Homo sapiens: one gene and its partners. The protein of the gene in region 3 interacts with the protein of the main gene of each other region in a pairwise test. Each region holds a gene or a part of one and is shown on either strand. Other genes may lie near its edges. The genes, in order: NFAT5, CFAP418 and DDX17.

Region 1 (10,433 bases), on a different chromosome or scaffold from region 3:
TGGGGCCACCGCGATCGGGGCGCCGCGTCTTCTCTTACCGGGACCCTCCTCCCCAGCAAAGTTGCCCCCAAGCGGGCGGCGTGGCCTGGAGCCGGTTCTGAGTGCAGGGTCACCATTTTCCTCCCTTTCCAGCTTGTTTTTGCGCCGTCGTTCCACCCCCTCTCCCTCCGGCCTAGTCCACTCCCTCCCCATGTTGGGACAGCCCCCCTCGACCAGGCGTTCTTCCTTTCCTCGTCATCTTCTTGCTGGAAAGGGCCCGATGGAAAGGGCCCGAATTTTCTTTTCTTTTTTTTTCTCTTCCCACCTCCGTGGCATTCTAATTACTTCTCCCTTCTCCTTTACAAAGATGGGGGTGCCCTCTCTGGATTGGTTTTATTCCTCTCCTCTCCCAGGAGGACCAGCCCAGGCACAGACGCTGTCCTTTGAGAATTTTCTCTGCTTTTCCGTTCAAGGGCTGGTTGCAGGGAGGGAGCTCAGGCAGAGACTTTTCATTTAAGAACTCTTTTGGCTAAGGCCTGCAGGGGATTCCCAGCATCTGAAATATTAGCACTGGAGCTGATCCCTACTCAGGTGAAATTCCTTTACTGGACACCACAAGAATGTGTCAGAACAGGTTCCCTGTGCAAGGGGCTTCAAAACCAAAATATTCCCACTGCGCTCTTTACGCTTTTTAAACCACCGGGAGGGGGCAAAAGACATAACTGGGTTGTTAACTATTCATTTCACCGTGTAAAAAAAAATGTAGGTGTTTCTTCTGCTTTTGGTTTGATGTATCCATCCATTTGCTTATTCCACCCCCTCCAAAAAAGGGACTTCACCTTCCTACTAGTGTATCTAAATTGTTTAAGTGAATCAGAGTGAGATGGTTTACTCTGAAAGGTGCTGGACTTTACAGACTGACCATTGATTTTGTACACAGAGTCCTACTTAGTAATTGTAGCCACTGTCTGTTGCTCCAATGACTTTAGTTGGCAGCCACCATCCTGTAGGATGTTTTTCGGGCAACATTACCTGAGGTACTTTAGAAATATTGTAGTTTTGAATGTCAAAAAAAAAAGAGACATATCAAGAGATGATTCTTAGAGCAGGGCTAATGTGTTAGAATTGAGTGCTAAAAATAGCCAAGACATTAACACCATTTGGGGAGTAATCATCAGATAATTTTCCATGAAACATATACTTTATGAAAATCTAAGTTTAGCTTCGAGACCAATGTAGAGACAATTCAGCCTCTTTTGCGGGGAATATATTCACAAATATGGGCTTTAGCGCTTAAAAATACACTGCAGTTGGCCGGGCGCAGTGGCTCACGCCTGTATTCCCAGTACTGTGGGAGGCCGAGGCAGTTGGATCACCTGAGGTCGGGAGTTTGAGACCAGCCTGACCAATTTGGAGAAACCCCGTCACCCCGTCACTACTAAAAATACAAAATTAGCCGGGCGTGGTGGTGCATGCCTGTAATCCCAGCTACTCGGGAGGCTGAGGCACGAGAACCACTTGAATCCGGGAGGCGGAGGTTGCGGTGAGCCGAGATCGCACCATTGCACTCCAGCCTGGGCAAAAAGAACGAAACTCCGTTTCAAAATGTATGTGTGTATATATATATATGTGTGTGTGTGTGTGTGTGTGTGTGTGTGTATATATATATATATATACACACACACACATTGCAGTTATATAAGAGATGTATGCTATCCTTGGCATTTTTTTCCTCATTCAGCATAAAAAGTACCTAATGCTTTTTGTGTTTTTCAGATTCTCTGAAGTTACACCCATCACAGAATTTTCATAGAGCTGGACTATTGGAAGGTCAGCAAAGTACCATTTTAAAGCATATTGTGTTAGTATGCAAAGGCTTTCTCTGAAATGGAGTTTAAATGGGAAAGTATGAAACTTTGCAAACTCACACAATGTAGTTTTCTCCTAAAGAGTCTGATCCTTCTTTTAGAGCAGCTGAATGTTTCAATGGGTTTTGTTGCTGCGTTTGATGTGCTTGTTGGCTGTTCTATCTGCTTTGAGAAACATTGAAAAAAAAATCATTTTAAATTATGTGTTGAGTGTTCTACTTTAGAATTCCAGACCTTCATTTTAGCTTTTTATACACAAAATAGAATGTGAAAAGGCCCAAACATTAACATGAATATAAAAGAGTGACACCAAACACATAATTAGTTTGAAAATTCAGAATTTAGAACATTTATATGCTGAGCATTTCAAAATATGTTAATTATTTATTGCAAAAGCATTGATGCCATTGTTATTGCATTATACTTAAGGGTAAGGAAAGCCAAGTAATAGCGATGATGATTGAGCTATGCTTAGAAGAAAGGGGTTTAGAAAGTTCTGGAAATGTTAATAGAGTCTGTAGATTAGTTTAAACAGCTTACACTTACTTTAGAAAACTTTTGGCTTTGTGTGTGTGTGTGTTTTAACATTTTAAGACATAAAATAGTCTTGTGTTTTTGTAGATTTTGAAGTGATTTCACATATATCATCTTTAAATCTTTATAATTTTGGAATTGGACAGCAAAGGTACTAATTTCCCCATTGTAGAGAAGAGAAACTAAGGCTGAAATTAAGAAACCAAAAAAAAAAAAAAGTCCCACAGTAGAAGAAATAATACTTTCTGCGTTTCAGTTAGTGCTCTTTATGCAAAGCGGCCACCGTGAAATACACATGTAACCAGTAACAAACATTTTATGGTCTACTTTAAAAAGGCCCTAAATATTTAAGTTTGACTTGAGAAGATTTTTGCCTCCCTTGGAGGTAGTCCGGGATAGTGGGGGGCAAGTGGGTTTTGTAGTTGAGCTTAAATTTGAATACCAACTTAGCTCCTTATTAGTTCTGTGACTTCGGGCAAGTGATTTTACCTCTCTAAACTTTAATATTCTTCCTGTTAAAATGTAGCTGTCTCTTAAATTTAGTGAGCTAATGTGTATTAAATTGCCTAGCATAGCGTCTAGCTTAATAAATGTTAGTTTTTTCCTTTAGTATCAGCTAAATTTTTTTAACAGTATAATTTAGAGCATATAAAATGTTCTCAAATAAATAATTGGTTAAATTTGTTTTGTACGTGTAAGAAGCCCATAGATATACATTAGTATGAAAATCAAATATTTTTAAAACTACAATTTGAAGTGAGAAATTTTTAGCAGTGTTTCTTAGTGAAGCAGATTTCTGGTTTTTATTCATATTCAATTTGTGACCATGTTGTAGAGACATATTTGTCTGTACAAACCCATCTCATTTCCTGGACAACAAACCATAGAGTGTCATAATCATAGAGATGATCAGGGAGGAGAAAGACATGAAGAAAAAAATGAGTGTTAATTATTTAAGCAAATATTTTTAGTGAGCTGATGGAAATACAGACAACCATTTAGCATGTTTATTTACATGTTTATGCCTAAATACTTTCGTTAATTTTTCATTTTAGTTAAGGGGATTCTCATTTAAAGTAAGGCTACCCTTTTAGAAATTATATATAAAATATAACATGTATAAGTATCAATTCTGTCATGCCCTTTAAAATGTTTTGAGACAGGGTGTCTTAAAAAAGTTGTTTGCTTCTGTAATGAAGTGTCTAATCTGTGCCACCTCATTGCTATTTCTTTTTTATTATTGACATTTTAAAGAATACATAAAAGTAGAGAGAATAAAATAAGCCCCATATACCCATCACCACAGTTTAACCAGTATCTAATCTTGCTTCTTTTATCCCTTCTTCTCTCTCAAGCTGGATTATTTTAAAACAAATATCAAACATCAGATCACTTCATACATAAGTATTTCTGTATTACAGTGACTTTCTTATATTAATTATTATTGATATAATTTAATTGTTAATATAATTATTGTATTAATTTTTAATTACTCTGTATAGTTTATAAACTATTTCTTGGAATATTCTAGTTTATTTCAGCAAAGTCTCTTGTGACTCTCCTGCCCTCTTTTCAAGACAGAGTGCTGCAGGAGGCTACCGCTTCTAGTATATAGTATATCCTATAACCTATGTTGAAATTGTAGGCCATGCTGCTAGATTGGAGTTCATATTGTTGCTCTGACATTTACTTGTATGGCCTTAGCCTAATAATTTAATCTTTTTTGCTTCAATTTTCTCATCTTTAAACGGGAGCAATAATAGTGCCTCATCCTAGGTTTTTGTGAAGATTATTTGAGGCAAATTCGTGTAAAGCATTTAATTTAGCACATGCTAAGTGCTCAGTAAATGTTAGCTAAAGTTAAAAAATTTTTAAAAACTAAATGCTAGCTGTAGAGTGTTTACTGTGTGCCAAGAACTTTACAAATAAGAACTCCTGAGGTGGGCATATCACTTGAGGTCAGGAGTTTGAGACCAGCCTGGCTAACATGGTGAAACCCCATCTCTACTAAAAAAAAAAAAAAAAAAAAAAAAAAAAGCCAGGCATGGTGGCATACACCTGTAATACCAACTACTCGCGATGCTGAGGCAGGAGAATCCCTTGAATCTGGGAGACAGAGGTTGTGGTGAGCCAAGATCACTCTACTGAACTCCAGCCTGGGTGACAGAGTGAGACTCTGTCTCAAAAAAACAACAACAAACAAACAAACAAACAAAATAAGAACTCAGCGAATTCTCCTGACTACCCTTTGAGATGGTTATTATTATCCTACTTTAGAGATGAGCAATTGAAGGCATAACTCACCCAGAGTCACAAGCTAGTAAATTGTAGAACCAGAATTCCAACCCAGGTAGTCTCACTTTAGCCTAGCCTCTTGACTACTGTGCTGTACTAACTCCCAATGGTATATACTATCAAGTTCTGTCTAGTAATATTTATGTATGCATGTTTTACATCAGTAGTCTAGATTTTCATCTATAAATAGTATTTAAAAACTTGGCCCAGAGTGAGGGGAATTTAAGTAATTGGTGTGATATAATTTAATTTTTTTATAGAACGTACGTTTTCCAAATTTAAATTTTTTTTTTGGGGGGAAACAAGGTTGGAAAACCTGCACTTGGGTATTATTATTATTATTTATTATTATTATTTTTTTGAGATGGAGTCTTTGCTCTGTCGCCCAGGTTGGAGTGCAGTGGCACGATCTCGGCTCACTGCAAGCTCCACCTCCTGGGTTCACGCCATTCTCCTGCCTCAGCCTCCTGAGTAGCTGGGACTACAGGCGACTGCCACCACGCCCGGCTAATTTTTTTTGGATTTTTTAGTAGAAACAGGGTTTCACCATATTAGCCAGGATGGTCTCGATCTCCTGATCTCGTGATCCGCCTGCGTCAGCCTCCCAAAGTGCTGGGATTACAGGCGTGAGCCACCGCACCTGGCCTGCGCTTGGGTATTATTAAACTTTAGAAGTAGATTCAAAATGTCTACTATTCAACTGAGTTTGCATTTAACCTTCCTATCAAAACAGTGCTAGTCTTTCTTGCAACCTCTTTTTAAATTTAATACGATGATTGCCTGACAATGGGAAAAGGGTCCTGGCTAATTAATTAATGTTATAATACATGGCCATTAAATGATGTTTCTGGTAACCCCATAATTAACATGTGACACTCTTAATAAAATAAGTAAATAAAAATTATGCTGTTACAATTATATTCAAAGTAACTTGTGTTACAAAAATCCTGAACAAAAGTATACATCACTGATTTTCTATTTTTCAATTCTATTTTTGTATTTTCCATCTTTAAAGAACATGGTTTATATATTTTTTTTAAATAAAATTGTTTGCCATTAGTAAGTTCAAATTCGAAGGCTAGGATTCCTTTTTGAAGTGCCTGGGAAAAAAATTCAGCTGCAGAGAAAAGGCACCATTTGTTGTACATTCTATAATGAAAACTATTCATTTTGGCAAATGAAAAACTAAGATAGAAATGAAACTGAATGAATCATTCTAGAAATAGAGAAATATAAGATTATAGAAAAATCATAGATAAAACAGGAAAAATAAGAGTATAAACAAATTGGAAAAATAGATAAATATAAACAATAGATTTAACAATTTTAATGATTTTAAAAGCATGAGTTAAGAGATTATATATCAAATGAAAGAACTGGTTAAATAAGAGCTAAATGCTGATCTGATATAATCTTTGTTATTTATTTATTTATTTATTTATTTTTGATACAGAGTCTCACTCTGTTGCCAGGCTGGAGTGCAGTGGCATGATCTCAGCTCACTGCAACCTCTGCCTCCTGGGTTTAAGTGATTGTCCTGCCTCAGCCTCCTGAGTAGCTGGGACTACAGGCGCGTGCCACCACACCCAGCTAATTTTTGTATTTTTAGTAGAGACAGGGTTTCACCATGTTGGCCAGGGTGGCCTCGATCCCTTGACCTCATGATCCACCCTCCATGGCTTCCCAAAAGTGCTAGGATTACGGGCATGTGCCACCGCATCCGGCCACAATCTTTGTTTAAATTAAACATTTAAGACCGGAAGATTTTTAAAAGAAAATGTGAAATATGACAATGAGTTAAGAGAAAATAAACTATGATTTTTTTTTTACTACTGCTAATCTATTTGATATGGTACCATCCAGAATTATACTTCATAGTGCAAAAATGGAAAATCCTAAACATAGTAGCAATGTTTTATTGACTTTATAGAATATTTCTGATTTATATTTCTTCCTAGGGCCCTTGTTATATCATAGATCATAAATGCCTATAATATTTTATGTACAAAGATACCTTTTTGGAAAGGATTTTTTGAAAACATTTAACATGAAAAATAATCTATTGAATTCTTTTCTTGTTTAGTATCTAATAATCTCTGTGGATCCATGTCTAGTAAACTAAAAGTATTATGGAAATAATGAAGTTCAAACATGTCAAAAGTCATACCTAGTTCATCCCAGCTTCTTGTCTTTAGATCCATCTCTTTCTGATTGCTTACCACCTGTTTTTGTGTCCCTTCCTAAACTCTGCTTTCATTATTTTCACTCAATACTGGAATTCTATTGCTTATTTAAAATAAAAGGATATAAATTCATATTCTAATCCAGTGGTTCTTGGCCTGATTTTAATTTACTCTTGACTCTGATTATTCCAGGAGTCCCCTAAAATTTCAAAGTGGTAGTACAGAAAAACATTTCCCAGTGTGATTAGTATTATATATAAAAAACAGCCACTTTTTTTTTTTTTTTTTTTTTGAGATAGAGTTTCGCTCTTGTTGCCCAGGCTGGAGTGCAATGGTGCAATCTCAGCTCACCGCAACTTCACCTCCAGGTTCAAGCGATTTCCCTGCCTCAGCCTCCCAAGTAGCTGGGATTACAAGGGCGCACCACCACACCTGGCTAATACTGTATTTTTATTAGAGATAGGGTTTCTCCATGTTGGTCAGGTTGGTCTCGAACTCGTGACCTCAGGTGATCCACCCACCTCGGCCCCCCAAAGTGCTGGGATTACAGGCGTGAGCCACTGCGCCCGGCCAAAACAGACACTTTTTATATGAAAAAGTTGACTCCTCAGAGTATATTTTATATTAAGAGTAACAGGTAACTAGAAAAAAATAAAGATTATTCAGTGGCATAGGATATAGACCTTTTAACTTTAGAGAGGTAAAAGACATTTTTCAATAGAAATGTTGCTTATTAATTTGTATTATTGTCTTTTCTTGCTGTTGCTAAGATTTTATTTCAAGTTACGCAAAGAAGGTTGCTGTGTCTTCTGTTTGCTTTTGTGTTAATAAAAGTCAAGTTTAAATAAACTAACAGAGTATAAGACCAATGATAATTATGTACTTGAGTGAAAAGGTAGAGATTTCCTCTATGAGTTAACTACAGATAATGGATCTAGCTTTCAGAATAAATAAACTTGATGTAATAAAGGATATATATATTTAATCATTTGAACTAAACATTTGTTACATGAGAGTTCAGTTACTTTTATTTGTTCTTAATAGCTTTTGAAAAATATATACTTTTCTCTTTTTTTTTTTTGGTTTTTGAAACGGAGTCGTGCTCTGTCACCCAGGCTGGAGTGCAGTGGCACAATCTTGGCTTATTGCAACCTCTGTCACCCAGGTTCAAGCAATTCTCCCACCAGAGCCTCCCAAGTAGCTGGGATTACAGGCACGCACCACCATGTCCAGCTAATTTTTTGTATTTTTTTAGTAGAGATGGGGTTTCACCATGTTGGCCAGGATGGTCTCGAACTCCTGACCTCGGGTGATCTGCCTCCCTCAGCCTCCCAAACTGCTGGGATTACAGGCATGAGCCACCGTGCCCAGCCCATTCTCTTTTATTTTTAACATTTATGTGGTAAATAGGTAATGATCATTATTGCTTCCCACCCATGAATGTTTATCACTTCTTTTTCATTCAGGAAACACTGTGATTAGTCTTTTACTGAATTTGGTATTTAGTTTTGAAGATGAGAGAAGAACAGAAAAGTTTCTAATAGTGAGCTAAGTTGTTGATTATGCTTATTTATTTATTTATTTATTTAGAGACGGAGTCTCTCTGTTGCTTAGGCTAGAGTGCAGTGGTGCGATCTGGGCTCAGTGCAACCTCCGTCTCTTGGGTTCAAGCAATTCTCCTGCCTCAGCCTCATGAGTAGCTGGGACTACAGGTGCACACCACCATGCCCAGCTAATTTTTGTGTTTTTAGTAGAGACAGGGTTTCACCTTATTGGTCAGGCTGGTCTTGAATTCCTGACCTCAGGTGATCCGCCCGCCTCAGCCTCCCAAAGTGCTGGGATTACAGGTGTGAGCCATTGGGCCTGGCTGATTATGCTTATCTTTATAAAATTAGTTTTACAGGAGGCTGAGGTGGGAGGATCATCTGAGCCCAGGACGTCAAGGCTGCATTGAGCCTGCATGATCATGGGATCATGCCACTGCACTCCAGCCTGGGCAACAGAGCAAGACCCTGTCTTAAAAAATAATAATAATAAAATAAATAAATAAAGCAAGAGAAGAAAAAAATTTAGTTTTAATAAAAAAAACTGTACCTGAGGCAATCTTTGTAGGACATGCTAGTCAAAAGAATAAATTCAGTGTTAGTAATAATTGAAAACCTTTTTTGAGCAATTTATATGTCAAGCAGTTTATGTTTAACACCATTTTACATATATTTTTCACATTTAACTCTTAGAAAAATCCTGCGATGTAGTACCAGTATCCCTATTTCGTAAATGAACAAACTGAGGTACAGAGGGATCTACTAATTTTCCCAAGGGCACATATCTCGTGGATGAGGCTGGAATTTGAACTTCACCAGTTTTACCCCAGAGCTGTGAGATTATATTGACTGTCTTAACAGTCAGTAAGAACATTTGAGGCCGGGCTCGGTGGCTCACGCCTGTAATCCCAGCACTTTGGGAGGCCGAGGTGGGCGGATCACGAGGTCAGGAGATCAAGATCATCCTGGCCAACATGGTGAAACCCCGTCTCTACTAAAAAAATACAAAAAAATTAGCTGGGCGTGGTGGGCGGGCACCTGTAGTCCCCTGAGGCAGGAGAATGGCTTGAACCCGGAAGGTGGAGCTTTCAGGGAGCGGAGATGGCGCCTCTGCACTCCAGCCTGGGCGACAGAGTGAGACTCGGTCTCAAAAAAAAAAAAAAAAAAAAGAACGTTTGAAATTGGCATTTATACTTTGGGCCCTAATAAGATTACACCATTGTTCAGATGGTATAAAAAGAATAGTTTGTGTAGGATTCTTTACTAAGCAGCTTCCATAAAGTAATGAGACAAATTTTATAAACTACATACAAAAATTCATAAAGAATATGATTATGACTCTTTTGGGGAAGATTTTAATACTCAAAATTAGCAAATCATTGCCTGGCTTTGGTGAGTGTCTTTAACATTTAGAGGAAGTGATGGCTGATCAAAACACCTATGTTGGCCTAGCTCAGTGGCTCACGCCTGTAATCCCAGCACTTTGGGAGGCTGAGGTGGGCGGATCGCTTGAACTCAGGAGTTCGAGATCAGCCTGGGCAACGTAGCAAAACCCCCTCTCTACCAAAATTAGCCAGGGATGGTGTTACGCACCTGTAGTCCCAGCTACTTGGGAGGCAGGCTGAGGTGAGAGGATCACATGAGCCCAGGAGGTCAAGAAATACCTCTCTCCTGGCTGATGATGGGACTCAGAAGTGAAAAGTAGGAGAAGGCTAAGCAGAAGCCACCACCTAAGGGGAATTACTTTAGAAATGAAGGTGCCGTGGGGCTCTTGATTTCTTTGGCAGTAGTTTTATGGAAGCATGGATGCCATTGTTCCCTATTTCTGCTAGTATGTTTCAGAGACAAAGTAAATTCAAGAAGAGATGAGCAACAGAAGAAATAGTACTAATGTGAGCTATGTGAATAGTGGTATTTTGCATAGAGCCTTTATTAATTTACTTTGGTTCTTTCTGCTTTGTCTTTTTTAATCTGCCCCTTTCACCCCGTGTATCCGTTTTCTCACGGTAGTCTATACATTTTGTTGTTCT
Region 2 (10,613 bases), on a different chromosome or scaffold from region 3:
AAAGCTTAAAAATTATAAAACAAAAAACAATATGAAAAAGGGGGGAGGGAAGGAGCTGTACTCACATAACTGTAGAATTGAAAGGACCACTGTGATGTTAAAGCCTCAAAAAGAGGCTGAACTACTGACTCCTCAGAGGGTTGACTGGTTTGAGCCACATATATTAGCGCTTGCCTCCTCAGACTCATCTGTTTGTTGGTTGCTATGTGGATGGTGATAAAATACCCATTTGGGTGGGGTCAAAAATTATATTACACTCTTATAGCACATCTGCAAATCCTGGCCTTTTGAACAAATGACCGCAGTACACCAGGCCTCTGTGCTGTCAGAAGCTGTTTCCCAAATACCAACTTTGAACCTAGCCCTACCATATGGACTCATGGGGTCAATGAAAAATGGTGTCTGAGGGGCCCCAAAGCATGAGAAGTTCTGGCAAAAAGTGACAGGTTTTATCCAGGCTGCTGAAGAGAAATGTACTGAGACTGGAAAAGCTAAGGAGGTGCACGCCTTCAGAACGTGTCTGTGGATCAAAATACACCCTAACAGATTCTAGAGAGAGCCCCTGGTGGCTGTGTTAATCTTGGCATTGTTATCATTAAGAGGCTATGCTCATTTCTGGCACCTAACACTGGACATATTGACAGCAACCGGGTTGATGGAAGAGGAAAGAATCTGTTTTGCAGTTAAAAAAAAAAAGTTCTCAGATTTCTCAAGCTATTTGAAATCACGCCACAGAAATACTTGATTTCAGCATTCTTCAGCTCTCTGCGATGATGCCGCAAGTGGTGTCCCCCACATGTGATGATGTATTTCAGAGCCAGAGTTTTCTCAAGATGTTCCAAGCCTGCAGGCTCCTGATCCTTTTTCAAATTACCAAGATAATAGTATCCCAGTGAGAGTTGTGATTAGTCTAAACTCTCCACAGCTGTGAGAGATGAATGTACAAATTCCAATAAAGATTCTGCATGTTCTGGGCTGAATTTACCTACATGACATCGAGGCCTAATTCAGGGACCACTTAAAAGAACTGGAGCTGCTTCGGTGCTACTCCATTCTTCCATGGCATCAGCTGCTAGGAGGCTTGCAACTGATCCAGGAGGATGCCTCCCCTCATGCCAATGTCACCGCCCACCAGTGGGTATTTGTTTAAAAGGCCTGCAGTATGCAGGGGAAAGATGCAGGGAAGGGAAAATTAAACCTAAGTACATGGGAATTCAAAGAAGCCTTGCAATTCATTATGTGAGCAGCCAGGGAGATTACAGAACACCTTGTAACTGAAGCAGTTGGCCTGAGGCGGCGTGGGACAGCAGAACCAGCTGCCTCACCACCTCTAACTCATTTATAATGGTGCTAGCAAGAAACCAGGCTCAGAGAGTTCTTCAGATTCTTGGGAAAGCCAACAGTGCTTTGGTTTCCTAATTTGGACACCTTTTACCTAAAATACTTCCTTGAATACTAAGTGAATGTAATAATACATGACATGCCCCTTTACCATGTTTTTTGTTTTGTTTTTAAGACAGTCTCATTCTCTTACCCAGGCTAAAGTTCAGTGGCACTATCTCGGCTCACTGCGGCCTCCACCTCCTGAGCTCAAGCCATCCTCCCACCTCAGTCTACCACATACCTGGGACCACAGGTGCAGCGCTGCCATGCCTGGCTAATTTTTGTAATTTTTTTGTTAGAGACAGCGTTTTGCCATGTCACCTGGGCTGTCTCAAACTCCTGGGCTCAAGTGATCCGCTCGCCTTGGCCTCCCAAAGTACTGGGATTACAGGCATGAGCCACGGCACCCGGTCTCCTTTACCATGTTAATAATTGTATCACCTGGAGGCACTTGCCTATTCTTTACGAAATACCTGACACTCAGCATGCTTTCCATGACTGGGAAAGACAGGGGACAAGGATTCACGACATTGTCTACACACGTTAACAATTATGGAGAAAGAAATAAGATTGTTAGTTAAACAGAAAGTTATACCAAAGGAATTTATAGCCCGGTTTAAAAAAAAATGATCTAATAGGATTTGCCTGAATGTAGAATCTTCTAAAGCCACACTACCTTCATCTTATACATCCACATCCATTGTTTAGAGCCCACTGAATTTTTAACTGTATAACTTTCTTTCTGACATCTGGAGATTTTAATAGTGCACTGTAATTTTACAGTTTATCACACAGCCATACACATATGTTACTCTTATGTGACATATGGCATTTCTCCTTGTAGACTCTGAACTCAACCTTTCACTCTCGGTGGCAAACCAGAAAGAGAACATGACTCAAGTCAGGAGACCCACCGGAGAGTTGAATGAGCCATAAATGAAATTCTCAAAATACCAAACTCTGGATGATCCATACATCCATTTTATTAAAATGGGAGTGGGCAGGAATGGAAAACCAAGTATCATATGTTCTCACTCGTAAGTAGGAGTTAATTTATGGGTACACAAAGGCATACAGAGTGGCATAATGGACACTGGAGACTCAGAAGAGAGGAGGACGGGTGAGGGGTAAAGGATAGTAACACTATCTATTGGAGGCTGGGTGTGATGGCTCACGCCTGTAATCCCAGCACTTTGGGAGGCTGAGGCGGGCGGATCACCTGAGGTCAGGAGTTCGAGACCAGCCTGAACAGCATGGAGAAACCCTGTCTCTACTAAAAATACAAAATTAGCCCGGCATGGTGGCACATGCCTGTAATCCCAGCTACTTGGGAGGCTGAGGCAGGAGAATCACTTGAACCCAGGAAGCAGAGGTTGTGGTGAGCAGAGATCAAACCATTGCACACTCCAGCCTGGGCAGCAAGAGCAAAACTCCGTCTGGGAAAAAAAAAAAAAAAAAAAGAACACTACCTTTTGGGTATAATGTACACTACTCGGGTGACAGGTGCACTAAAATTTCAGACTTCACCACTATACAATTCATCCATGTAACCAAAAACCGCTTGTACCCCAAAAGCTACTGAAAGTAAATAAAATCAATAAAATGAAATTTTAAAATGTAAACGGAATAAATTATCCAATCAAAAGACCAGAAAAATGGGAGTAGAAGTGAGGGAGCGAGGGAACACACTAATTTTTTTCTAATATACACAAAAAACAAAACACAGAAAACCAGAAACATTTTCTCTTTTATTTTTTCACCATCTCTCATTGCAAATCTTCTACACGCTAATAGATTCTTTTTTTTTTTTTTTTTTTTTTTTGAGACGGAGTCTCGCTCTGTGGCCCAAGCTGGAGTGCTGTGGCGCGATCTTGGCTCACTGCAAGCTCCGCCTCCCGGGTTCACGCCATTCTCCTGCCTCAACCTCCCGAGTAGCTGCCAGTACAGGCGCCCGCCACCACGCTCAGCTAATTTTTTGTATTTTTAGTAAAGACGGGGTTTCACCGTGTTAGCCAGGATGGTCTCCATCTCCTGACCTCGTGATCCGCCCGCCTCGGCCTCCCAAAGTGCTGGGATTACAGGCGTGAGCCACCGCGCCCGGCCGCTAACAGATACTTTCAACATTGGTACAGATCCCCTCAGATTTCATCTTCTCAAGAGCAAAATCAAATCATTAATGTAAGCCTGTTAAACTGGATGGCCACTAACTATGACTTCCCCTGGAACCATGTTGCAAGGACCGCTTTTTCAAGCAGCTTTTCCTTGCCTTTCTGCTAGAGACCGGTTCTAGGTAAAATCGCCCAGCAAGGCAACTTGGAAAAAAACTTTAAAAAATTAATTAGTTGGAAATCATAGAATATGCCAGGATTCTAGACAAATAACTAGTGTCCGAGTCCCCTCCTTGCCCCAACATTGTCTCCCCACCCTCTAGAGTTCTCTACTCTGACTACAAGGGTAATACATGTCAGGGTGCCTCTAGGATACTACTTAAGCATCCTGACAGTGTCTGATCTGAGTGGTCAGTGCTCAATGTTAAGTATTTTGCATAAAAATGCTAGTTTCCCCTGTGTGTGTAAATATACATATATGTTTATATGCATATTTGTGTGTGTGTGTGTGTGTGTGTGTGTGTGTGTGTTTAGGCCAGGATTCTAATAGCTAAAACAAAGATTCAGAGACAATAAATAGAGCAGCCCTGCAGAAAAGGGGAGTGTTGCCTTGCTGAGAATATTCACAGTTGGTCTGATGGTAACATGGGGTGTTCTACTAAATGACAGTTTGATCTAGATGATTTGTTTGTTCAAAGTATCTTTCATCTCCTAGGGATAAAAAGCCCTGCTTTGTCACATTTGCAATTTCCCTCATGTAAATAACACCCACTATGGCTCATTTCAAGCTTCCCAAGTGACATCACTGAATGGAAAGTTAAAGAGAGAAAGTCTTTCAGATGTAAACAATCTCAATTATATTTATAAATAATAGTAAAAGGTAGTGGAATCACTAGCATATGAATTTTGAGTATCATATTTGCTTTTAACATAATGTAATTGCAAGTTTGCATAATTTAATATTTAATAATAATTGCATTTAACAACTAGCTCCCAAAATCCTTGAAAATTTATCACTGGGTAGGAGTGAGCATGTCCCATTGGCTCCAGCACACCACTACATGTTGCTCTTCAGGGACCTTAAAAGATACTTTGAACAAACAAATCATCTGGATCAAACTATCTCCAGAGTTCCCAAGGGTGCCAACCTCTTTGCTACCCCACTTTAGAAATACCCAAAACACAGGTTAAACTATGCACAGTATTTATTAAGAATGCCATTTACAATACCTTACACTTGTATCACGCTTTACACTTTTCAAAGTAGTGCTTTTATGGCACGGTGGGACTGTCTGACCCTGCAGAGTGAATTTAAATCGCTGGGTAATAGCTTTTTAATGTATAATGGGTGAAAAGATAGTCCTGGGAGCCGTTTGTCAAAGAGAAAGGCGAAGGAGTGGAACTGGCAGCCCCACAAGGAAGTCGGGAAGCTGGTTGGCCCCTACCCGGTTCCTGGTTCTCTCCTGGAAATGGCTCCAACATTGTGCAAGCAAGTGGGTGTGCAATAGTTTTGAGCACGCATCTCTCTCTCTGTCTCTCTCTCTCTCTCTCTCGGATTTAATTAGAATTTCCGTTTTTTCCAACAAAGAGTTGGACGGGATACGTTCTAAGACTTTTACAAACTGTAAAATGATGAGCGAGGTAACATTCAAATATGCTCTTAACAGAACAGCTCAGTAATGGTTTCCTCCACATCAAAACGTGCCTATTGCTGCAGCAGACGCTTATGCAGAGTCTACATGCACTCTCACCGCAAAAATTCACACAGCCAGTAGTCGTGGCCGAGTGGTTAAGGCGATGGACTAGAAATCCATTGGGGTCTCCCCGCGCAGGTTCGAATCCTGCCGACTACGGGAATGTCAGCTTTTTGCCGTCAACACTTACTTTTTGTGTTTTAGAGCGTTCTGCTCAAACCTTCCACAGATTTCAGGAATTTACAAACGGCTGAAACACAACAGGGACCCAAACGGGAGAGGAGAGAATGAAGGGGCGAGAATGCGTGCTTGTGGTTACAACGTGGGCCCGGGAGGGGGAGACGGGAGGAACCACGCCAGACATGCTGAAAGGAAGAAACGCAAAGCATCGCGAGTCACACAGACACACTGCAGAGACAGCTCCGAACTCTGTCCCTGCATACGCCCGCCCCTCACGAACCCACCGCGTTCTCTGCCGCGAGCCCTCGTGGGCGCCGGGTTGCCACGGGAAGCGGTGCGCATGCGCGGGGACGCCTAACGGGGCAGGAGCCCGCCAGGTCCCCTCGTTACTCCTGGAAACCACCGGAGCCTTGGCGATTGGAGGGGAAAAGGCCAGGCGATTCAAGATGGCGGAGGACCTGGACGAGCTCTTGGATGAAGTCGAGTCCAAGTTTTGCACACCTGACCTTCTAAGACGGGGTATGGTCGAGCAGCCCAAAGGCTGCGGCGGCGGCACCCACAGTAGCGACCGGAACCAAGCCAAGGCGAAAGAGACGCTCAGGTTAACCGGGCGGGAGGGGTGGACTGTTCTGGTAAAGCCCTGCTCCAGGCCCTAGAGCTGCCCCTCCGCCGCCCAACCCAAAAGAAACGTGCCCGCGACCTCCAGCCCCTCCTTGCATCAGGGTTCAGACCCTCAGCGCCCTACCCTCCGCGGCAGCGCATTCGTCGACCCTCTTCGCGGATTCTGGCACCTCTTCACTCAGCGCAGACTCCGCCCCCCGGCATGCCCCAGAGGGCTGGCCCCCGCCCCGCCCCGCCCCGCCCCGCCCCGCCCCGCCCCGCCCGCAGAGCCCGCAGTCCGCGCCAGTCTCCTTCATCCTGTTTCTGGCTGCCAGCGCGTAGGAGGTTCTAGTCGGGGACCGGGATACCCCTCAGGCGCCCCGTTCTTAACCCCGAGAGGGCTGTGCTGACCTCGGCCGCATTTTGCCTCTGTGTGGCCAAGCGGTTCTCATCTCCCTGTGAGGTGCCCTGTTAGACAGCCTCATCCCATTGCCTCAGACCCCACTCCCCAGGTCAATCCTATTTGTCTTTAGCTCAGTTTTGTTGTTTTGTTTGTTTTTTGAGATGGAGTCTCGCTCTGTCGCCCAGGTTGGAGTGCAGTGGCACGATCGTAGCTCACTGCAGCCTCCAACTCCCGGGTTCAAAGATCCTCCCACCTCGGCCTACCCTAGCTGGGATTACAGGCACGAGCCTGTAATCTGGGATTACGTAAACTGGGATTACAGGCACGAGCCCGGTTAATTTGTATTTTTTGTAGAGACAGTCTCACTGTGTTGGCCAGGCTGGTCTTGAACTCCTGAGTTCAAGCTGTCCTCCCGCCTCTGCCTCCCCTAACTGCTAGGATTACAGTTGCGAGCCATCGCACCTGACTCAGTTTGTTTTATTTTTTTAACTCAGGGAGTTAAGATGAGATTAAATTCATTACAAAAGGGTTAATTATTGTGAACATTAAACCGTCTACCTTCCTTCTCTCCATGGCCCCCTAGTTAAGGGTGCCAGACATACATATGGAAATTTAAGGACATTTCTTAAGGTATTTTGGTTTTTTATCTAAAAACTACCTTTCAAATTTACCAGTCGTTTTTCCTCCATGTAATTATTAAATAATAGGATTTCCTTCACTTCCTCATTTCCCCCACAACCCCTCAAAAAAAAAAAACAAAATGTTTGCATAAGAATATTGACCTTCAGTAACTCTTGCTAGAATCTTTTGGAAATTGCCTCTTGCCTAGAATATTTTGGAAACGCTTGTGAAATTACACGGAGGCAACTTTGGATCAATCTAAGAACGTCATCTCCGTTAATTTTTTTGCTGCATCTTTGGTTTGGTTTTGGTTTTTTGGTGTGTGTATGTGTGATTTCCCAAAGTATTATCCAACTCTGTTACTATCCAGTTCACCTGGCTTACCTCCAGTGATATTTATTTATTTTATTTACTTATTTATTTATTTTTGAGTTTCGCTCTGTCGCCCAGGCTGGAGTGCAGTGGCCCACCTCAGCTCACTGCAAGCTCCGCCTCCCATTCCCCTGCCTCAGCCTCCCGAGTAGCTGAGACTACAGGCGCCCGCCACCACGCCTGGCTAATTTTTTGTATTTCTGGTAGAAACGGGGTTTCACCGTGTTAGCCAGGATGGTCTCGATCTCCTGACCTCGTGATCCACCCACCTCGGCCTCCCAAAGTGCTGGGATTACAGGCATGAGCCACCGTGCCCAGTCAGTGACATTTATTTATAAAAATTCACTCTGCGAAGATAAAAGCATCGAAAAAATTCTAAAGGAGTACATAAACAAAATTTCTAAAAATTAGTTGAGTTCTGAGCAGCATTTTAAAACAAAAATTAGAAACAACTATAATTACTATGAATGGGCTAACACTCATTTGGCTGGATGTTGTAAATATCACTCTCATTAACTTTTATTATCTTGTGTACTGGAATTCCTTATGTATCTATTAGCGCATCTACCATCCCTATCCCACAACAGTGTTGCTTTGCAATTTCTTTAGTACTTTTCGTTTGTCCTTCTAGGGGATAGAACTAGTCTATCAAGGAGCTTTTCAGAGCTGTTCATCTTAGGAGAACTAGCATGCGGAGGGGCAGGATGTATTGAAGCCAGCTGCTCAAAATGGAAAGGACTATTTATGTGGATCTTCTCCAACCATGGGTTGTGTCATGCCTGTTCTTGCTCTACTAAAATTCATCCATAATATTTCTAGTACCTCAGCCCACCTTAATACATTAGATTTTTTTAGTACTAAGTAACATAAAAGCCTTAGTGAAACAGTACTGTTGTCATTTATATTAAAACTTTTCATCTGGCAATGTAGTTGTAAATTGTACAAAAAACAGCAACAAAGGGCCTAAACCTTATACCAAATATAGTCCCAACCTGGTTTATAATGTTATATATTAAAATTTTTCCTTGAGCCAAAATTTATACTTAAAAGCTAGGAAGCAATTTATGTTTGAATTTATTGACAGGAGATTACCTACTAATTGTATAGCAGTGTAACCTGTATCTCTTATAAGAGTTAAAATACTAATATTACCTCTTAAAATGATACTATAAATGCAAATAATACTATAAATGACCATGCTACATCTGGATACCAGGAACAACTGCTAATGTAAGAGGTCAAAACATGCAATTTGTTGAAGTGTTCAAAATGATAAAAAGAAATATGTGATTAGTAAAAAAATTAAAAAAGACTGATGTGGGTTGAGAAGAACTGCAATAGGAATAAAGTGGTTCAGGATGATACAGATGGGAATATTTAAAGATAATATAGCTTTCTAGATGATAACTATAATAACAGCCAACATTTATTGAGCTCTTTCTGTATGCTAAGTGCTTTGTATATGTTATTTCATTTAATCTTCACAATCCCATGCGTGAATACTGTTATCCCCATTTCATTGACCAAATCAATGCTTAGTTACTTGCCTAAAGTCATATTGCTAAATCACAAGGACATAGTAGATCTAGATTTAAGCTTTCTATATAATACCTCTCACATTTAATTATAGGTTTAAGTGTTTATATTTTATCTTAAATATATGTTTTATTTTCAGCAGAAACTATATCTTTAAAAGATTAGAATGTCAGAAACAGAGTCAGAAAGGGAACCAGTAAAAGCTTATTAACATTTGATTGAGATTATTGTCACATCAAAAGACCAAAAAGAGTCTTATACAGTCCTTTAAAATTATGAGTTCTCAATGAAATGTTGACTTTATTGTTATTACTATAGCAAAGCATAGGCAAGTGTAGGCATTTTGAAATTGTGTGATCTAAGAACAGACCAGAATCTTATGTAAGCTGGTAATTTGGATCTGTAACAGTACTGATTAGGTTGGTGGAGTTTGGATGTATCTGATTCTTGAAATTGTGAAATTGCATGAGGGAGGAGAACCCGGAAAGTATGTCCTGAAAGCCAAAGGAGAGAATTTTAAGAGGACATCTTAGCAACCTCTTATCGAAAAAGAAATATAAGGAATTGGTACCCAACAGTGTCAGATGCTTCTGAAAGATTAAAGAGGATTGGAACTGAGAACCACCATTAGATTGTAGTGATTTGGGCAGTGGAAACCTTCGAGAGAAGAGTTTCACTATAGTTGAGGGATTAGAGGCCAGAAGTAGAATATTATACCTGAAAGAAATTTTAAATAGTCATCTAGATATCATTTTTATAGATAAAATATTTGAGTTTCAGAGAGATTAAATAATTTAAACTAAGTCGGTATCTCTAGACTGGTGATGATTTTGCCACCCAAGGGGCATTTGGCAATGTCTGGAGACATTTTTTATTGTCGCACCTGGGGAAGGGTGTGCTATTATTTAATAGCATCTAGTGGGTAGATGCTGTAAAATGTCCTGCAATATACAACAGTCTCCTGCCCCCACATACACACCCCAGAGAATTATCTGACCCAAAATGTCCATAATTCCAAGGCTGAGAAACCCCCGCCTAGGATTAGCACCCAACTGATTCTAAATCTAGTCTACTTGTAAGGAAGTAGAAATCGTGGATATAGACTATTCTTCAGTAGTGAGTAAGAAAGGGTGGCAGCTTCAAGACAGGGGTTTTTTGAAGTGTCTCTTTGAAGAAGCAAGCCTTGAGCATACCTCTAAGTCAAAGGAAGAAACCAGTATACAGTGAAAGACATTAAGGGTAAAAGTTACAGTACAACTGAAGAGGCTAAGCCTGGAGACAGAATCAACCATTAGGTAGTAGGCAGCCGTCTCTTGCTTTTCTTATATCAGGTTAAATTATTTTACTCCAAGATGTAATGAAGAAGGCCTATGTTAAAAATTGTCAGAGTAAATACATTTCTGAAATTAGAGAGTTTGACTAAAAAACTTGTCTTCTAAAACAAATAATTTAATGAAGTTATAAAGTTGATGTACAGCATCTACTTCATACAAACGCTAAAGAAAGTTAATCTTGTATAGTATTAAGTGCACGGACTGCCCTAGATTCAATTCCAAGCCTTTTCTCCCACTACTTATATGACCTTGAACAGATTTCTGAATCTCTCAGTGCCTTTTCTTCATCTATAAAACTGGGGTTAAATAAAGATATACTCATGTAAAGACTAAGGACAATGCCTGGGTTATAGTAAGTATTCAGTAAATACTTACTATTTAG
Region 3 (10,433 bases):
CTCCAATTCAGTGCCAGGGATTTCCGTTGGCTCTTAGTGGCCGGGATATGGTGGGCATTGCTCAGACTGGCTCTGGGAAGACGTTGGCGGTATGTATGAGCAAGAGAAGATCCTTGATATTGTGGTAACTTATTTTGCTATTCTAGTTGTCATACGTTCTCAGTTCTTCGTAGAAGTGCCATTCAGATAGTTAGATACTATTTTAGTTATTAAATATATGGAAGCATTTTATGTTCAAATTTGTATTGCTTCCTGTATATAGCAGTGGTAAGTTCTGTTTTTCACTTTCCTATTTATGCATTAATTCAGTAATTACTAAGTATCTAAGTAAGATTGTACTTCTAAGCGTAAGGTTGTCATTCTTTCCCCCCTCCACAGTATCTCCTGCCTGCAATTGTTCATATTAACCACCAGCCATACTTGGAAAGGGGAGATGGCCCAATCGTAAGTGTGTTTCAGTTTCTTTGTAATTCTAAGAAAAACTACAATTTAGCGACTATTTAGGCTTGGTGCTTTACATTATCCATTTGTACTCTTAACCACACCCTCCATAGGTGGAAATGGTTTCATTCTCATCTTACTTGGAATTAAATGACTTACCCAAGATCACTCAGCAATTGAATAGCTGAGCTTACATTTGAACCAAAGTCTTACTCTTAAAGAAACCATGCATGCTGTATGGGCATTTACTGTGCAGTAAATCAAGTGTTTTCTGGTTTTGGTGTGGTTTTTTTTGTTTTTTTGTTTTGATTTTTTGTGTTTTTTTGAGATGGAGGTTCGCTCCGTGTTGGTCAGGCTGGTCTCAAACTCCTGACCTGAGGTGATCAGCCCACCTTGCCCTCCCAAATTGCTGGGATTACAGGCATGAGCCACTGCGTCCAGCCTTCTTTCTTTTTTTTTTTTTTTTTTGGAGATATATTCTCACTCTTGTTGCCCAGGCTGGAGTGCAGTAGCGAGATCTCAGCTCACTGCAACCTCCGCCTGCCAGGTTCAAGCCATTCTCCTGCCTCAGCCTCCCGAGTAGCTGGGATTAAAGGCGTGCACCACCACTCCCAGCTAATGTTTGTATTTTTAGTAGAGACAGGTTTGCACCATGTTGGCCAGGCTGGTCTGGAACTCCTGACCTCAGGTGATCTGCCTGCCTCGGCCTCCCCAAGGTGCTGGGATTACAGGTGTGAGCCACCGCGCCTGGCATTGAATGTGTACTTTTTTTTTTTTTTTTTTTTTTTTTGAGATGGAGTTTCGCTCTTGGTTGCCCACGCTGGAGTACATTGGCACAATCTCGGCTCATTGCAACCTCCACCTCCTGGCTTCAAGCGATTCTCCTGTCTCGGCTTCCCAAGCAGCTGGGATTACAGGCATGCGCCGCCACACCCAGCTAATTTTTGTATTTTTAGTAGAGACGGGGTTTCACCATGTTGGCCAGACTGGTCTCGAACTCCTGACCTCAGGTGATCTGCCTCGGCCTCCCAAAATAATGGGATTACAGGTGTGAGCCACCACGCCCGGCCTACTTAACTTTTTTAAGAAATAAGCTTGCATTTGTCCTATATATTTATGAACATGTACAATATGTCTCAAGATATTCACAAAAAGAAATAATGCAGTACTTATAATACATAGTATATGTCTGACAGCATTATTATTAGTTGATATCTAATGGATCAGTATATAAAGCAAGTTTCATAATTTAATTTGAATGGTATATGATACCTTGATTTTTGTATTATTTGGCCAGATTGTACACAGTCTTGTCAGATTACATGTAAATTTTCATTGTTTTTGCCTTATCTACCTGGTGATGTGCTTAAATTAGAGGTCAGGAATGTGTCATTCTGCCAGTTTAAGTCAGGATGACCATCCAAAATTCCAAATTTTAGGCCAGGCATGGTGGCTCACACCTGTAATCCCAGCACTTTGGGAGGCCAAAGTGGGCAGATCACATGAAGTCAGGAGTTCGAGACTAGCCTGGCCAACATGGGGAAACCCCCATCTCTACAAAAATACAATAATTAGCTGGGCATGGTGGTGCCTGCCTCTAGTCCCAGCTACTCAGGAGGCTGAGGCGCAGGAGAATCATTTGAACCCAGGAAGCAGAGGTTACAGTGAGCCTTCATTGCACCACTGCACTCCAGCCTGGGCGATAGAGTGAGACTTTGTCTCAGAAAACAAAACAAATCCAAATTTTGAGGACCAATATGATCCTCAAAGTAAATGCTTGCTGGAGCATTTTGGTTTTGGGGGTTTAGGATGCTCAACCTGTAAATGAGAGTTGTATACTTAAAACCAGGTAATACAATCTATATCTCCACTTAAACAGTATATATAAACTATAATGATTGATAATGTGTCATAGTAAAAGTGACGAGGATACCAGTATCATTCCAAATGCTAAACATGAAGTTCTAATAATTTTTTTCTATATTCCATTGTGCTAATATTCCCCACTTCTGATCTTCACCCCATCACTTTTAATGTGCTAGATTAGACAGCAAAGAATTAAATTAGCTTTTTGTATTTTGTTTCTTCTTTTTTTTTTTTTTTTTTTTAAACCTTGGATGAGGTCTCAAGTGTCTTTTTGTTGGTTTCAGTGTCTAGTTCTGGCTCCTACCAGAGAGCTTGCCCAGCAAGTACAGCAGGTGGCCGATGACTATGGCAAATGTTCTAGATTGAAGAGTACTTGTATTTATGGAGGTGCTCCTAAAGGTCCCCAGATTCGAGACTTGGAAAGAGGTAATAATATATAGTGTAAAAGAATTGTTAGTTTATCTTACTTTACCAATTCCTGTGGAGGAAATTGGAGAAAAAAAGTGGGTTCTTGTGATAAACTCAGAATTTCAGCAGCTTAGAAATTCTCAGATGTGACTAAAACAGCTATTTTGAGAGAGAAGGTTCAGCATGGCTGGAAACTTTGTGAGGATTTGGTGATTGTACATAAGTCCTGACATGGTTTTGCGGTTACTTTGTTAAAATTTAGCTTCTCTGGGCCAGTGCGGTGGCTCATGCCTGTAATCCCAGCACTTTGGGAGGCCGAGGTGGGCGGATCACGAGGTCCAGAGATTGGGACCATCCTGGCTAACATGGTGAAACCCCGTCTCTACTAAAAATACGAAAAATTAGCCAGGCGTGGTGGCAGGTGCCTGCAGTCCCAGCTACTGGGGAGGCTGAGGCAGGAGAATGGCGTGAACCTGGGAGTCGGAGCTTGCAGTGAGCCGAGATCGTGCCACTGCATTCCAGTCTGGGTGACAGAGCAAGACTCCATCTCAAAAAAAAAAAAAAAAATAGCTTCTCTGCAGCATTGAGTACAGCCACCAGGGCTGCTGCTGCTGCATTTTTGTAGAGTCGGGGTCTTGCTATGTTGACCAGGCTGGTTGTGAACTGGCCTCAAGCGATCTTCCCGCCTCCTCTTCCCAAAGTGCTAGAACACAGCTGTGAGCCACTGCACCTAGTCGATTGGCTCGATCATTGGTTTTGTTTTACAGGTGTTGAGATCTGCATAGCCACTCCTGGACGTCTGATAGATTTCCTGGAGTCAGGAAAGACAAATCTTCGCCGATGTACTTACCTTGTATTGGACGAAGCTGACAGAATGCTTGATATGGGGTTTGAACCCCAGATCCGTAAAATTGTTGACCAAATCAGGGTGTGTAAAGCTAATAATAAGCAGTCTTTATGCCATTTGTCCAAGTTCCTTAGCCTGAAAGAAAGCCTTTCCTTTTTTGATAGCCTGATAGGCAGACACTGATGTGGAGTGCAACCTGGCCAAAAGAAGTAAGACAGCTTGCAGAGGATTTCCTTCGTGATTACACCCAGATCAACGTAGGCAATCTGGAGTTGAGTGCCAACCACAACATCCTCCAGATAGTGGATGTCTGCATGGAAAGTGAAAAAGACCACAAGTATGAAAGATATTTTACTCTGATTTGATAATGCTGATAAACCTTTTCTAATAACCCTCCAAAATTAGTACTGTAGAAACCAGTATATTTTGAGGCCTGAGAACATTAAAAGCATTGCTAGGTTTCTGATAATCCATCATCATATCATTTGTCAGAGCATTATGGTTAAATGCAAGGATTCTGAATTCTTGAGTTTGAAATTTAGCTCTGCTGATTACAAGCTGTATAATTTTGCACAATTTTGTGTCTTGGTGCTGCAGTTTCTTCATCTGTGAAATGGGAGTAATACCACTTACATGAGACTTGCTGTGAGGATGGTATGAGTTAGTATTTCTTGAGCACATAGCAGAACCTGACTCAGTACTCTAATAGTTATTAAAAATTTTAAAAGCGTAATGTGCAAAGAAAGTACTGTAGCCTTGGGAGTTGATATTGCAGACATAATCGTCCACATAATAACTTTCTGTGTGATGACTGCATTGTTGGTCATGTTTTCAGGTTGATCCAACTAATGGAAGAAATAATGGCTGAAAAGGAAAACAAAACAATAATATTTGTGGAGACAAAGAGACGCTGTGATGATCTGACTCGAAGGATGCGCAGAGATGGGTGAGTATAGCACCAAGGCAATTAACCTCTGGTTTTATAGTTAACTGGAAATTTCTAAATTGGTATTCCAAATGTTGTGTAATATTTCAATAATGCCTATCCATGCAGTTTGCTCTTTTAATGAGCACAGTCATCTATTCATGAAGCCTGACAAACCTTACAAAAATTGCATGATAGCATTTGGCTTTAAAGTTCGATTTTCTCCACTTTAAAAGATTTTTAAAATATTGGTCACTTTTCTTCTGATAGTTGGCCAGCTATGTGTATCCATGGAGACAAGAGTCAACCAGAAAGAGATTGGGTACTTAATGGTAAGTTTAAAACTAAGCATTTTCTGTTGATTCCCCACCCCCTGCCCATAAGTGAATGTTCATGCTCTATTTCAGGGATAGGCAAACTTTCTGTAAAGGGCCACATAGTAAGTATGCTTGGCTTTGTAAACCAAATGGTGGTCTCTGTTATAGCCACTCAGCACTGCTGTTTTAGGACAAAAGCTGTAGGCTGTAGATAATATGTAAAGAAGTGGCCTGGACTGGGCACCGTTGGTGGCTCATGCCTATAATCCTAACACTTTGGGAGGCTGAGGCGCGTGGATCACCTAGGCCCAGGAGTTCAAGACCGGTCTGGGCAACATAGTGAAATCCTGTCTCTAAAAGAAAAACAAAACAAAACAAAACTTAGCCAAGCTTGGTGGTGCACGCCTGTAACCCCAGCGACTCCGGAGATTGAGGTGGGAGGATTGCTTGAGTCTAGGAGACAGGTTGGAGTGAGCCAAGATCGTGCCACTCCAGCCTGGGTGACAGGGTGGGACCCTGTCTCAAAGAGATAAACGTGGCTATGTTCAGACAATATTTATTTGCAAAAATAGGCGTTGTGCCAGATTTGGCCCAAAGGCCAGTTTGTCTTACCCCTGTTGTATAGTTGATTGAATTACTGAGGGTACTTTTAGCGTGTGCTCATGGTTCTTTAAGGGCCACGATGCTGGCTCTTTAAACTTTTTCACAACTTTCACCACCCTCCCTTTATTAATAAAGTCTTCAATTTTTTCCTTCTGATTATAAAAATATAACTACCGTTTGGGGAGAATTAAACTGTTACTGAAATATTTAAAGAAAAATGTTTCTTAATGAGTCATATTTTAGCATATTTCCTTTCAGTCCTTTTTTTCAGGACTACTCTTAAGGGAAGCCATTGAGAAATGGAAGAGGCCATATTTTGTTTAAGAAATAAAATGTGGCCGGACACAGTGGCTCACGCCTGTAATCCCAGCACTTTGGGAGGCTGAGGTGGGCGGATCACCTGAGGTTGGGAGTTCGAGACCAGCCTGACCAACATGGAGAAACCCCGTCTCTACTAAAAATACAAAATTAGCCGGGCATGGTGGCATATGCCTGTAATCCCAGCTATTTGGGAGACTGAGGCAGGAGAATCGCTTGAACCCGGGAGGTGGAGGTTGCGGTGAGCTGAGATTGCGCCACTGCACTCCAGCCTCGGCAATAAGAGCGAAACTCCATCTCAAAAAAAAGAAAGAAAAATAAATAATATGCATACCTTTTGGGGGGAAATTCAGTTCTTTTCATTCTACATCTTTTGAACTTGTTTCCTACTGACCCCCAACTTTTGGTTGTGTCTCATTTGGGAAATAACTTTAAGGGGAAAAAAATCTAGCTCATATTAATTATGTAACAAATTGCCACACTCTCTTAACGGTATTTCATTATTAGTAGAGGTAACTATTGTGCTGCTGAATATGAGTGTAATAAAGATTTTCAAAAGAATCACTGTCAGTCATTACAAGAGCTTGGGATTTTCTGGCACCATTATTTGAAATTTTAACATGGTTATGTAAACAGATCAGATAGCAAGGAATGCTTATTTGATGATGATTATTGTTTGTTTTTACAGAGTTCCGTTCTGGAAAGGCACCCATCCTTATTGCTACAGATGTAGCCTCCCGTGGGCTAGGTTTGTATAGATAGGTGTCTCTGTCAATGGTATATGTATCTTTTGGTTTAAAGATTCGTCATTTCAAATTCAGACTTCAAGTTTAGAAAGTTGTATATACATGTGGTTAGATAAATATTTGAAAGAAAAAAATACAAAGCGTGATTCTCCCCATTCCCTGCCCCCCCCACAATTTTTTTTAACTTTGGTTTCCCCCACCCCCCTTTTATTTTCAAAGTCTCTTCCTGCTCCTAACAAACAGGCTTTGGTCTGCAGCAAGGCCTAGGCATGACTATTCAAACAGAGGGAGAGGAGACAGACAGCTGAATGGCTCAGCTTCTCTCTGGTGGTGGTTTCTGGCTGGATAGAATAAGCCTGACGAAACCTAGCTATTGTAAGCTAGTTTCTTCAGTTATTCTTTTCCCTATCCCTGTCTAAGCTAGATATATACAGAGAGGTCCAGTTTTATGAATGCTTATTAGATGGAATTTTATAAGTCTAATGCAGTATCAGAATAGCAAATATGTGTATTGCCCAGTTTAATTTACTGAGGTCAAATTATCATGGGCACTTGGCTATCCCCTCCTACCCATGCACTTATCTGTAGGTGTGTTATCAACTGATGATTTTCTGGAGTTTTTGACCCATTACCATTTAAGATATACAGAGAATTTTATGGTAGTTTAGCCCACTATTCTGAGCTAAACAGGTCTAACTCAGAACTTCTATATTTTAAAAAAAAAGATTATTTGTATTACAAGGAAATCCTTAAATTATTGACAGGTATTTAATTTGCCCAGTAAGGTGAGAAGTACCATATTATTCCCTTATACTATATAATATAAAGAGAACAGGTATTCAAACTGGAATACAAAAGTAATGAAGCCTTTTTATGCATTGCACTCATCATTCCCTCCTTCAGAGGTGGTGACCTGCAGCCATGATGGAAAGTTCTCTCTGCCCCTCTGCCCTCTGAGGTCATGTCTGGATCTGTGCCATTAGAACTTGGGCCTGTTGGGAGAGGAGGCGGAGGCCTGAAAGCAGTTTACATAAAGCTTTCAGTAATGGTTGGTTTTTAAACAGGCTTGCTATGTGCTGGTAGCTTCTTTGTGCATCTTGCCTAGACAATTAAAAATATTTGCTCCATGTCCCCTTGCATTTCTAAACCAAATTAATTGGCTACCATTAGAATAACTTAGACTCTTCATCCCACCCCCACTCATCCAAGTGAGGGGAGAGGGAAGGTACCCGAGTCTGTTTCTTGTTACTCAACATCAGTGCTTGTTTTGGGCCCCTTTGTTTGCTGCCTTGTAAAAAATCAAAAGAGGGAGAAAACCCACCAAAATGGCAGAATTCTGACCAATGTCCTACAAGATCCTGGAAAGTGAAGGCTTCTACCTCATAGACAGGGGTGCAATTTTCAGCTGAGTCACCAGGGCCTTTTTTCACTTCCTGTCAAGCGATGGTCTCTTAAATGTTCCCTTCAGGTAAGTTCTTTGATTCCCATAATTTTATAATAGTCATCCTTAGGCTACCACTTCCCTTTCCACTGGGATATTTTTTATTTTTCCTTTTTTTTGTTTGAACTACACACTGTTAAACTAAAAGTATTGAATTTATTTTGTTTTGTTTTTTAACAGAAGCTTTGATATCAGCTGCAGATCACTCAATACATGGCCGAGACAAATCTACATTGGCCGGAAGCAGCTCTAGATGAGCCTCTTGGCTAGACTTAGTCCCTCCTTATTAGTGATTGGCGATTCAGGCCATGTCATAGGGCCTTTCAGACAAAAGGTTCTTATCCCAGTCAGCTGGCCAAAACATTAACTTTGGATTTCTTACCCTGCTACAGCATCTTCTAGAAAGGCAGCAAGATAATATTGTGGCAGTGCACAGATAACATCAGGGTAGACTTGACTGGAGAAAACCAAATTCTGCGCTTGCTCCTGTGTGCCCCCATCCAGCTGTGCATGCACACACAGGACACCTTTCTAGTATGAAGAACTTGCATCATGTCTGCCCTCTATTGAGCACCCCCTTCTAGAAATACTTCCAAGTATTAGCATGTGAACTGTTGACTCCACCCTGGTGCTTTCTGCTAGGAAAGCACACTTAACGCATCCAGTGTAGTAATTGAACTTGTTCTACTGCCATGGTCATATGCAGTGGGATTGCATAAGGAGCATTATCCTAGCTCTGAAGATACCATGGAGTAGAATTCCCCACCCCCTGTCTTACATCCACCCTGGCCCTGTAAATTCTTTTTTCCTTTGTTGCGTCAACGACCCTAGCCGGAGACTCAAGCTGCCCCCTGTGATAAGTGCCTTCTCGTCTTTCTGGTGTGATTCAGGACTTTAGGGGTCAGTAAAGACCGAGGAGCCTTTATTGTAATAAGAAACAGACATAATGCCCCTTCTTCACAAGCCCTGTAACAACAGCTAATTTTTTTTTTTTAATCTCCCCTTTCTCCCTTGAAATTAATCCAGTCTGGGCAATAGATGCAGTCTGACCCTTTGGATGTAACTTACATTTTTTTTTATTAATTATTTTTTTCTACAATCACCCCAATTATCCTTGGGGGAGGCGTTGGAGGACCTGAAATTTTTACCCGAACCCAGGTTCTCCGGCGCTTGGCAACCAAATGGGGCTACAGAGAAGCATCTAAGCCAGTTCACAGAGCGAGCGTGTGTGGGGACTTCTCACTGCCACGGACCCTTGATGCATGCTCCCCGCGCTCCAGTGGTCCCGTGTCAGAAGGCGGAGTTTTCGAAAGGAGGCCGCCAAAAATAAAAGGCAAAGAGACGGGATCGGCTGCAGCGGTTTCCCAAAGGAGGAGGGAGTGTGCATCGGTCTGGTAACAAACAGAGAATGTTTTTTAATTATTTATATCACAAAAATCTGTGTTTTATCTAGGATATTTTCTGAATATTCTTTGTAAAATGCAGATTTTTTTCCACAAAACAGTAGGATTCTTTGTTATATTCTTAAAATTGTTTGTTTAAGTAGGTAAAAATATACATTCAGCTGAAAGCATTACACTAACATTTACATTTTAAGCCTTAGGAGGTTATTCAGCCCAATTCCCAGCAGTAGAGAGAATACTAAACTTGTGTCTCAAGGTTTCATGGTTTTCCCACGTTCTTTGGCTATTAATTTAATTTCCCAGGTCACGTAGACAATCATTGATAATTGAAACAAGTCCTGAGTTGAAATAACCTTGAGTTGAGCAAAAATATCCTCATTTTGGCAGAAGCTGGGCTTGGTAGTACAGTAAAATTTTAGTGTAATGTGCTCTTGTAATTGAAAGGGGATAGATAATCTGGATGTTTCTGCAAAGGAAAATAGGTGTGTACTTAACAGCTTTGGCTCTACTCAGTTTCTTAAAAAGATAAGAGCAAAAAAAGTTAAATGTTAATCAAAACATTTAAGTTTCCTTTAAATTGTAGTAATAAAATATATGAAGCTCCTTTTTTTACTTTGCTCTGTGACTGGTTTAAAGGTAAGTTTGTTATGTTGTTGGTAGATTTTGCCAGGCTTCTCCCAACAGAGTAGAAGTGATTTGGCCTCATAACTTCACAGTGGTTTACCACTTTGTTCTATGTTCTGGTTTTGTAAAGGATAGTACTGGAATTTGCGTCTGAAGACCAATATTGGTGTAACTCCTGTCAGTATATTGGTAAAATGTAGCAGAGGCAGGAGTTTGGATGTTTGGATGGGATTCCCTTAGGATTCTACAGCCAATAAAGATCCTATTTCCTATGCATGTCCCAGGAATCAGTAATCCTCTTTTACTCTGTTGGGATGAGTCTTTTTTTGTTTCTGTTCAGAGTGGTTACTAACTTCACCTTCTTTCCTCTTGCTGTCATCTGCATTCGTGCTTCCCACCTGTTGTTGGCATGTCCTTTACCTTCTCTTTCCCTGCCACATCAACCTACACACTGACTCATCATTGACGTGGAAGATGTGGAAGATGTCAAGTTT

Evidence for each region.
Region 1: the proteins of DDX17 (region 3) and NFAT5 interact in binary tests that used the Homo sapiens proteins (3 or more experiments, as listed by UniProt).
Region 2: the proteins of DDX17 (region 3) and CFAP418 interact in a two-hybrid assay, tested with the Homo sapiens proteins (one study listed by IntAct).

The regions. Positions count from the first base shown.
Region 1 is NC_000016.10:69,566,740-69,577,172, forward strand, and holds part of NFAT5 (nuclear factor of activated T-cells 5), read left to right. Parts: intron 1-1,755; coding exon 1,756-1,809; intron 1,810-10,433. UniProt on the Homo sapiens protein: Transcription factor involved, among others, in the transcriptional regulation of osmoprotective and inflammatory genes. Binds the DNA consensus sequence 5'-[ACT][AG]TGGAAA[CAT]A[TA][ATC][CA][ATG][GT][GAC][CG][CT]-3'.
Region 2 is NC_000008.11:95,264,388-95,275,000, reverse strand, and holds the start of CFAP418 (cilia- and flagella-associated protein 418), read left to right. Parts: upstream 1-5,799; 5' UTR 5,800-5,811; coding exon 5,812-5,966; intron 5,967-6,110; exon of another isoform or gene 6,111-6,165; intron 6,166-10,613. UniProt on the Homo sapiens protein: May be involved in photoreceptor outer segment disk morphogenesis.
Region 3 is NC_000022.11:38,488,096-38,498,528, reverse strand, and holds part of DDX17 (probable ATP-dependent RNA helicase DDX17 isoform 1 precursor), read left to right. Parts: coding exon 1-89; intron 90-378; coding exon 379-444; intron 445-2,591; coding exon 2,592-2,733; intron 2,734-3,482; coding exon 3,483-3,643; intron 3,644-3,726; coding exon 3,727-3,899; intron 3,900-4,397; coding exon 4,398-4,508; intron 4,509-4,757; coding exon 4,758-4,819; intron 4,820-6,413; coding exon 6,414-6,473; intron 6,474-10,413; coding exon 10,414-10,433. UniProt on the Homo sapiens protein: As an RNA helicase, unwinds RNA and alters RNA structures through ATP binding and hydrolysis.